2 linked regions of the Homo sapiens genome follow. The protein of the gene in region 1 purifies or fractionates together with the protein of each later gene. This does not show direct contact. Each region holds a gene or a part of one and is shown in the gene's direction. Other genes may lie near its edges.

What was found. The genes of interacting proteins can lie anywhere in the genome.
Region 2: the proteins of FBXW2 (region 1) and OSGEPL1 purify together in Homo sapiens (affinity purification with mass spectrometry, with the first as the bait; one large-scale study listed by BioGRID). This does not show direct contact.

Annotation. Positions count from the first base shown.
Region 1 is NC_000009.12:120,772,917-120,776,416, reverse strand, and holds part of FBXW2 (F-box/WD repeat-containing protein 2), read left to right. Parts: intron 1-190; coding exon 191-324; intron 325-3,500. UniProt on the Homo sapiens protein: Substrate-recognition component of the SCF (SKP1-CUL1-F-box protein)-type E3 ubiquitin ligase complex.
Region 2 is NC_000002.12:189,746,160-189,749,476, reverse strand, and holds the end of OSGEPL1 (tRNA N6-adenosine threonylcarbamoyltransferase, mitochondrial), read left to right. Parts: intron 1-1,395; exon of another isoform or gene 1,396-2,145; coding exon of another isoform or gene 2,146-2,215; exon of another isoform or gene 2,216-2,308; coding exon of another isoform or gene 2,309-2,345; 3' UTR 2,346-2,817; downstream 2,818-3,317. Other genes in the region: ANKAR (ankyrin and armadillo repeat-containing protein), read right to left, coding at 2,850-3,097. UniProt on the Homo sapiens protein: Required for the formation of a threonylcarbamoyl group on adenosine at position 37 (t(6)A37) in mitochondrial tRNAs that read codons beginning with adenine.

The DNA of each region.
Region 1 (3,500 bases):
AGAATAATAAGCTATAATAGTAAGAATTTTGAAATAGTTTTATCAGAAAATTGCTAGTTGAATAGCATCATTCTTACGGTGTCTCTGGTTGGGAAATTATATAATTGGGGAAAATAAACATTATTGAACTCTATTATAAAAGACCCACTGACAGAGACATGTTTTAACTTTGTGTAATTATATGCACTAGTATTTAGCGTGGACTACAATGATGAACTGGATATCTTGGTGAGCGGCTCTGCAGACTTCACTGTGAAAGTATGGGCTTTATCTGCTGGGACATGCCTGAACACACTCACCGGGCACACGGAATGGGTCACCAAGGTAGGAAGACTTGGAAGAAGTCTCCTGCTTATCAGGCTTTTTGAGGGAGGGCGTGGAGGATGGTAGACACTGCCTTATAAGTGTTAGGTGAGTCATAAGATGGAATTGCTGTACCTACAAAGCATAATGGTACACAACAGTGACCAGCAAGTAGAAGGTACTTAATACATGGTTTAACAAATAAATGACTTATGGACATGGAAAGTTGCCCACAATATATTAGGTGGATAGAGGGGGCAAATAAAACAGATTACATACAAAAAAATATGTAGAGTGTGATACCGGTTTCTGAATGTGTTCATGCATCAAAATGTTGAAGGTGGGTATTTCTGGTGGGATTGTGGGCGTGTTTTTCCCTTTAGAATAAACATGTTTCTTTCTTAATCAGAAAAGCAATTTTCATTTTGAAAAAATAACGCTTACAAGAAGTAGGACAAAGAAAACTGTACAGGATCTTTAGTAAAATATTGTAATGTTTTCTTTTTTAAAAAAAACAAGATTGTTGTGAGGATCAAATGCAGTATTAATAATGGATATACCACGCAGAAGCACTTTTCTTGAGTTTACCATCCCATTCTATGAGGGGGCTGAGAAAACAGGAGTAAGCAAAATAGACCCAGTCCTTACCCTGTGGATGATAGTCTAATAGGAGAAATAGTTTTATTAAACAATTTCATGGGTAAATATATCATTTCAAATTGTGTTAAGTTTTGTGAAGGAACAGTACAGTGTTCTATAAGACAGTCTAGGGCCAGGCACAGAGGCTTACATGTGTAATCCCAGCACTTTGGGAGGCCAAGGCGGGCGGATCACCTGAGCCCAGGAGTTCGAGGCCAGCCTGGCCAACATGGTGAAACTCCGTCGCTACTGAAAGTACAAAAATCAGCCAGGCGTAATCCCAGCTACTCAGGAGGCTGAGACAGGGGAATTAACTTGAAGCTGGGGAGGCGGAGGTTGCAGTGAGCCAAGATCGTGCCACTGCACTCCACCCTAGGCAACAAAGTGAGACTCTTTCAAAAAAAAAAAAAAGTATAGGAAAGTAATTAGTTCAGAAAAAAGTTTTTGAGAAGGGGGTTAAACATGAAGAATAAATAGGAGATAGCTGTGGAAAGAGTAGCTGAAAGATTGTTTCAGAGGGTGCAATACATGCACGGGCCCAGCGGGTGGAAAGAACTTGGAACATTTGATGACCTGGACATAAGCCAGTGGAGCCATGCTGTAGTTGGGAAGATGGGCAGAGAGGTGGTAATCCTGTATGATTTATAAGGCCACAGTAAGTATGGTGGATATCATCAGAAGTGTACTAGGAAGCAATCCACGAGTTCTGAGCAAGTGTCTGGTGCGATCTATGTTTTAGGAAAATTAACTGCTGAATGAAGAATGGACTAGAGTTGGGCACAAGTGGATACAGGGTGACCATTTAGGCTTTGGCAGTAATCTAAGCAAAAGATGCCCATAACTTAGATTTTCCTGGCAATAATGAAAAGGGCACCCATAAAGGATATGTCTTTAAGGTAAAGCCACCTGGCTTGCAGATTCACTGTGGGAAACAAAGAAGAATCATTTGTTGTTGTTTTAATACAGACAGGGTCTCATTCTGTTGCCCAGGCTGGAATGCCGTGTCATGATCATAGCTCTCTGCAACTTTGAATCCCCAGGCTTAAGTGATCCTCTCACCTCAGCCTCCCGAGTAGCTAGCACTACAGCCACGTGCCACCACACTGAGCTAATTTCTTTTTTTTTTTTTTTTTTTTTGAGATGGAGTTTCACTCTTGTTGCGCAGGCTGGAGTGCAGTGGCACGATCTCGGCTCACTGCAGCATCCATCTGCCGGGTTCAAGTGATTCTCCTGCTTCAGCCTCCAGAGTAGCTGGGATTACAGGCGCCCACCACCATGCCTGGCTAATTTTTTGTGTTTTTAGTAGAGACGGAGTTTCATTGTGTTGGCCAGGCTGGTCTCGAACTCCTGACCTCAGGTGATCCACCCACCTCGGCCTCCCAAAATGCTGAGATTACAGGCGTGAGCCACCGTGCCCAGCTGCTAATTAAAAAAAATTTTTTGTGTGTGGAGATGGGGGTCTTGCTGTGTTGCCCAGGCTGGTCTTGAACTCCTGGCCTCAAGCAGTCCTCCCTCCTCGGCCTCTCAAAGTGCTGGGATTATAGGCATGAGCCACTGTGCCTAGCCCATGTTAACTTTTTACATGGAAAAGCTATATAGTGTAAGGCAGTTTGGTGTTGTGGAAAATAGTTGATTGGGGCTAGGACACTGACGGTGATGTCTTGGACAAGTTACTCCACCTTCAGGACCTGAGCTGTGTCATCTGCTAAATGTTCCTGTGAACACGAAATGAAATGTTGGGACAGCACCCAGCAAGGTGCCTGATACTTAGTAATAGGTCTGTTTCAGTTGAGTCTGCAATCCAGACTTCTGAATGAGTGAACCCTGCTTCCCCTCTCACCTTAGCCTGATTGATTGCAAAAATAGCTAGAACCTGATGTTTATATACTTATCTCAAGTGCTAACAGAATGTTAGCTTTTATTTTGTTACTACTATAATTTACATTGTTACTTTATCTTTACTGTAATTAAATGAGGTAAGATAATAGGTGCTTGTCTCCTGTTTTAAAGATCAAGAAACTGACCGAGTTTAGATGGTCTTGTCCAAGGTTGCAAAGTCAGCATATGGCAGATTCTGGTCCCAAGTCCAGTGCTTTTTCATTTATGATTCACATAGTTATGAAAGCAGATCATTTGCATCTACGTCAGTGTCTACGGGCTTTTTTCTTTTCTGTTCCCTCTCTTAAGTTACATTTTATAATTTTAAAAAATCAGTCCTAATGTTTGCTTCTAGACGAATGCTAAGATTAAATGCTGCCAATGTTTAGACTGTTTTTTTTTTTTTTTAAGCGTTGTGGTCTTGCTCTGTTGCCCAGGTTGGAGTGCAGTGGTGCAATCATAGCTCACTGCATCCTCCAACTCCTGGGCTCAAGCAATCCTCCCACCTCAGCCTTCCGAGTCACTGGGATTATAGGCGTGACCCACCTCATCTGGCTAACGTTAGACACTTTTAGATACTGCTAATAACAGAGAATATTGTAGTAAAACTTTTAGTAGAGGTTAATTTGGTAATGGAGTTATGGCTTAGCTATTCTAGCATATGTTAAGCTCATTTTTGT
Region 2 (3,317 bases), on another chromosome or scaffold:
TGTACAATTCTTTGAATGTAACCCTCTATATCTGGAGGCCTTTCTCATACATAATTTTTTATTTCGATTTTTATAGACAGCATCTTGCTATGTTGCCCAGGCTGGAGTAGAACTCCTAGGCTCATGTAATCCTCCAACTTCAGCCTCCAGGGCCTGACTTTTCACACATTGTTTAAAAAAAAAAAAACCGTGGAGTAATAAAAATAATCTTTTTTTTTTTTTTTTTTTTTTTAGACAGAGTCTCGCTCTGTTGTCCAGACTGGAGTGCAATGGCTCGATCTCGGCTCACTGCAACCTCCGTCTGCCAGGTTCAAGCAATTCTCCTGTCTCAGCCTCCCGAGTAGCTGGGACTACAGGCAAGCACCACCATGCCCAGCTCATTTTTTGTATTTTTAGTAGAGATGGGGTTTCACCATGCTGGCTAGGCTGGTCTCGAACTCCTGACCATGTGATCCACCCGCCTTGGCCTCCCAAAGTGCTGGGATTACAGGTGTGAGCCATCATGCCCAGCCAATAAAAATAATCTTTATAGGGGAGATTTATAGGAGAAGTAGTATAAATTTTAGGAGTGGTAGGATGGTCTGGCTAGGCCAAGATACTCAGGAAATATCTGGCATTGAATGCAAAGAAACTCTGATAACCTGAAAATAGTCCTAAAGTATAGTCTTGAGCCTACCTGAAACCAGTTTCAGAGCTCAAAAGTTGCTCTCTAAAGGCTTTTAAAAATATCTACAGAAACTTAATATTTCCATTGTTATAAATTCTTATCCTTAATGGTGCTGGATAACACAATTCATCACTTGAATATGTATCCCTTTCTAGTATAAAATAGACCATTTCCCTCCGCATTTCCTATATTTCAGTCAATCCACCAGAAAGTTGTGACTCAGCACCATTAAGATAATTTAGAAGTAAATATGAAGATTAAAGAGGTCTCTTATTTTTTAGTGGTTAAGAACACAAACTTTGCATGGTAGCTCATCCTAATGCTTTGGGAGGCCAAGGGAGGAGGATCACTTGAGGCCAGGAATTCGGGACCAGCCTGGGCAACATAGCAGAGACCTCAGCTTCCTGAGTAGCTAGGGCTACACGCCTGTACCACCACACTCAGCATAACAAAGACTGAGAACCTGTAGCCCTAGCCACTCAGGAGGCTGAGGTGGGATGATTGCTTTGAACCCAGGAGTTATAGGCTACAGTGAGCTATGATTGCACTATTGCCGTCCAACCTGGGTAACAGAGCAAGACCCTGTCTTAAACAGACAAATAAATAAATAATAATTCATTCACCCACTCACTCACCCACTGACTTTGGACTCTAGCACATAGAAAGCCCTAAGTACATATCGGGGAAAATAACCGCTAATTAATATATACTTTCAATGCTTACTGCAGCCCAGGTAGAGAATGGATTATAGCAAGACCCTCAGACTGTATGGAGGCAATTCAGCAAGTGGATGGAGAAAAGGGGAGCTTTAAAGTACACAGTGAAGCCAGGCGCAGTGGCTCATACCTGTAATCCCAGCACTTTGGGAGGCCAAGGTAGGCGGATCACCTGATGTCAGGAGTTCAAGACCAGCCTGGCCAACATGGTGAAACCTCATCTCTACTAAAAATACAAAAATTAGCCAGGTGTGGTGGCAGGCGCCTGTAACCGCAGCTACTCAAGAGGCTGAGGCAGGAGAATTGCCTGAACCCAGGAGGCGGAGTGAGCCAAGATCCTGCCACTGCACTCCAGCCTGGGTGACAGAGCAAGACTCCATCTCGAATAAATAAATAAATAAGTAAGTAAGTAAAATAAAGTACACAGTGAAGCCAGGTGTTTGTATCATATCTATCTGCAGCTATAAAATAGGAGAAGCAGACATTGCTATTTGAGCAAAGACATCATATGGTTCTAAGCCACAAAGACTATTACCCTTTCCAGTTGCAAACCAAAGACACTATAAATATGGAGAATGAGCAACACTGTTAGCCACAAAAGCCATACTCATGTACTTGATGGGCAATGATTTCAGATTTTATTTTTAAATAAAACTTTTTTTCCCTTTTAAAAAATTTTTGTTTTATTTTCTTTTTTAATTTTTCTTTTCTGCTTCATCCACTGACTCTCAGACTTTTTTTTTTTTTTTTTTTTTGAGACAGGGTCTCACTCTCTGACCTCAGCTGGAGTACAGTAGCCAGATCACAACTCACTGCAACCCTGACTTCCTGAACTCAAGCAATCCTCCTGCCTTAGCCTCTTGAATAGCCGGGACTACAGGTGTGCATGTCCATGCCCAGCCAACTTTATTTCTATTTTTTGTAGAGACAGGCTCTTGCCATGTTGCCCGGGCTGGTCCTGAACTGCTGAATTCAAGTGATCCTCCCACCTTGGCCTCCAGAAGTGCTGGGATTATGGGTGTGAGCCACCATGCCTAGCCAAAATGTTTCTTAAGGTATACATTTTGGGTCTTAGAAGACTTATACATTTGTAATATTTATTACTAAATATCTCAAAGTATTACAATAAATGTTACCATGTGAGCTACTTTGAATCAGGCTTCTTGCACACCAATTTAAAAATGTTAACTCTTGATATATACACTAGTTATACCACTCATGTCAGTCAATAAATTTTAAGGTTTAAGTGCAGGCCTTTGTTTACAGAAATCCTAATTTTTTGAAACCATAACTCTGACCTGACACTAAATTCCTGTAGACATGCTAAGGAAAATCTGCTTAGTATCGAGATCAAGAACTTTCATTCAAAAAGATTATTCAGTTATGTTATTTGCATATTACCATTATTAAAAATAAAAAAATTTTTAAAAGATGGCTCAGGAATCCTTTCATTCTAAAATGTTTTATTAGCCTTCTGCAGGCTCTGGGTTGGCTTTCTGGACATGTTTCCCAAGTTGGTTCAAACACACTATTCTTGGTCTTGATACATTTGTGATATCTGATGTAATTGTAGATGAAAAAGAAAAAATATTATGGGAATCCTTGGTCTTTTTTGTTGCTTTGAAGAGTCCCATGAAGTTAGTTACAGGAGGTAATAAAGTCAAAGAATCTTTTGGTTGAATTTTAGGTTTTAATTTTCTTCGGTGCTCCTTCCCTAAAAATTAGCCACAATTAAATGTCTCTCCTGAGAGCCCTAGGTATAGTCTCATTACTTCTACTTCTATGTAGTTCTATTTTCTTTACATAACTAAAACATACTAAGAGAACAGATCAGTACTTCCAGACATTTAGATGTCAGGGGCCAAAAATTTGTGGGGACCACTATATGGTTTGCTAGCTTGTTATGTCAAGTTAGCACCAATAAGAGAACGAAT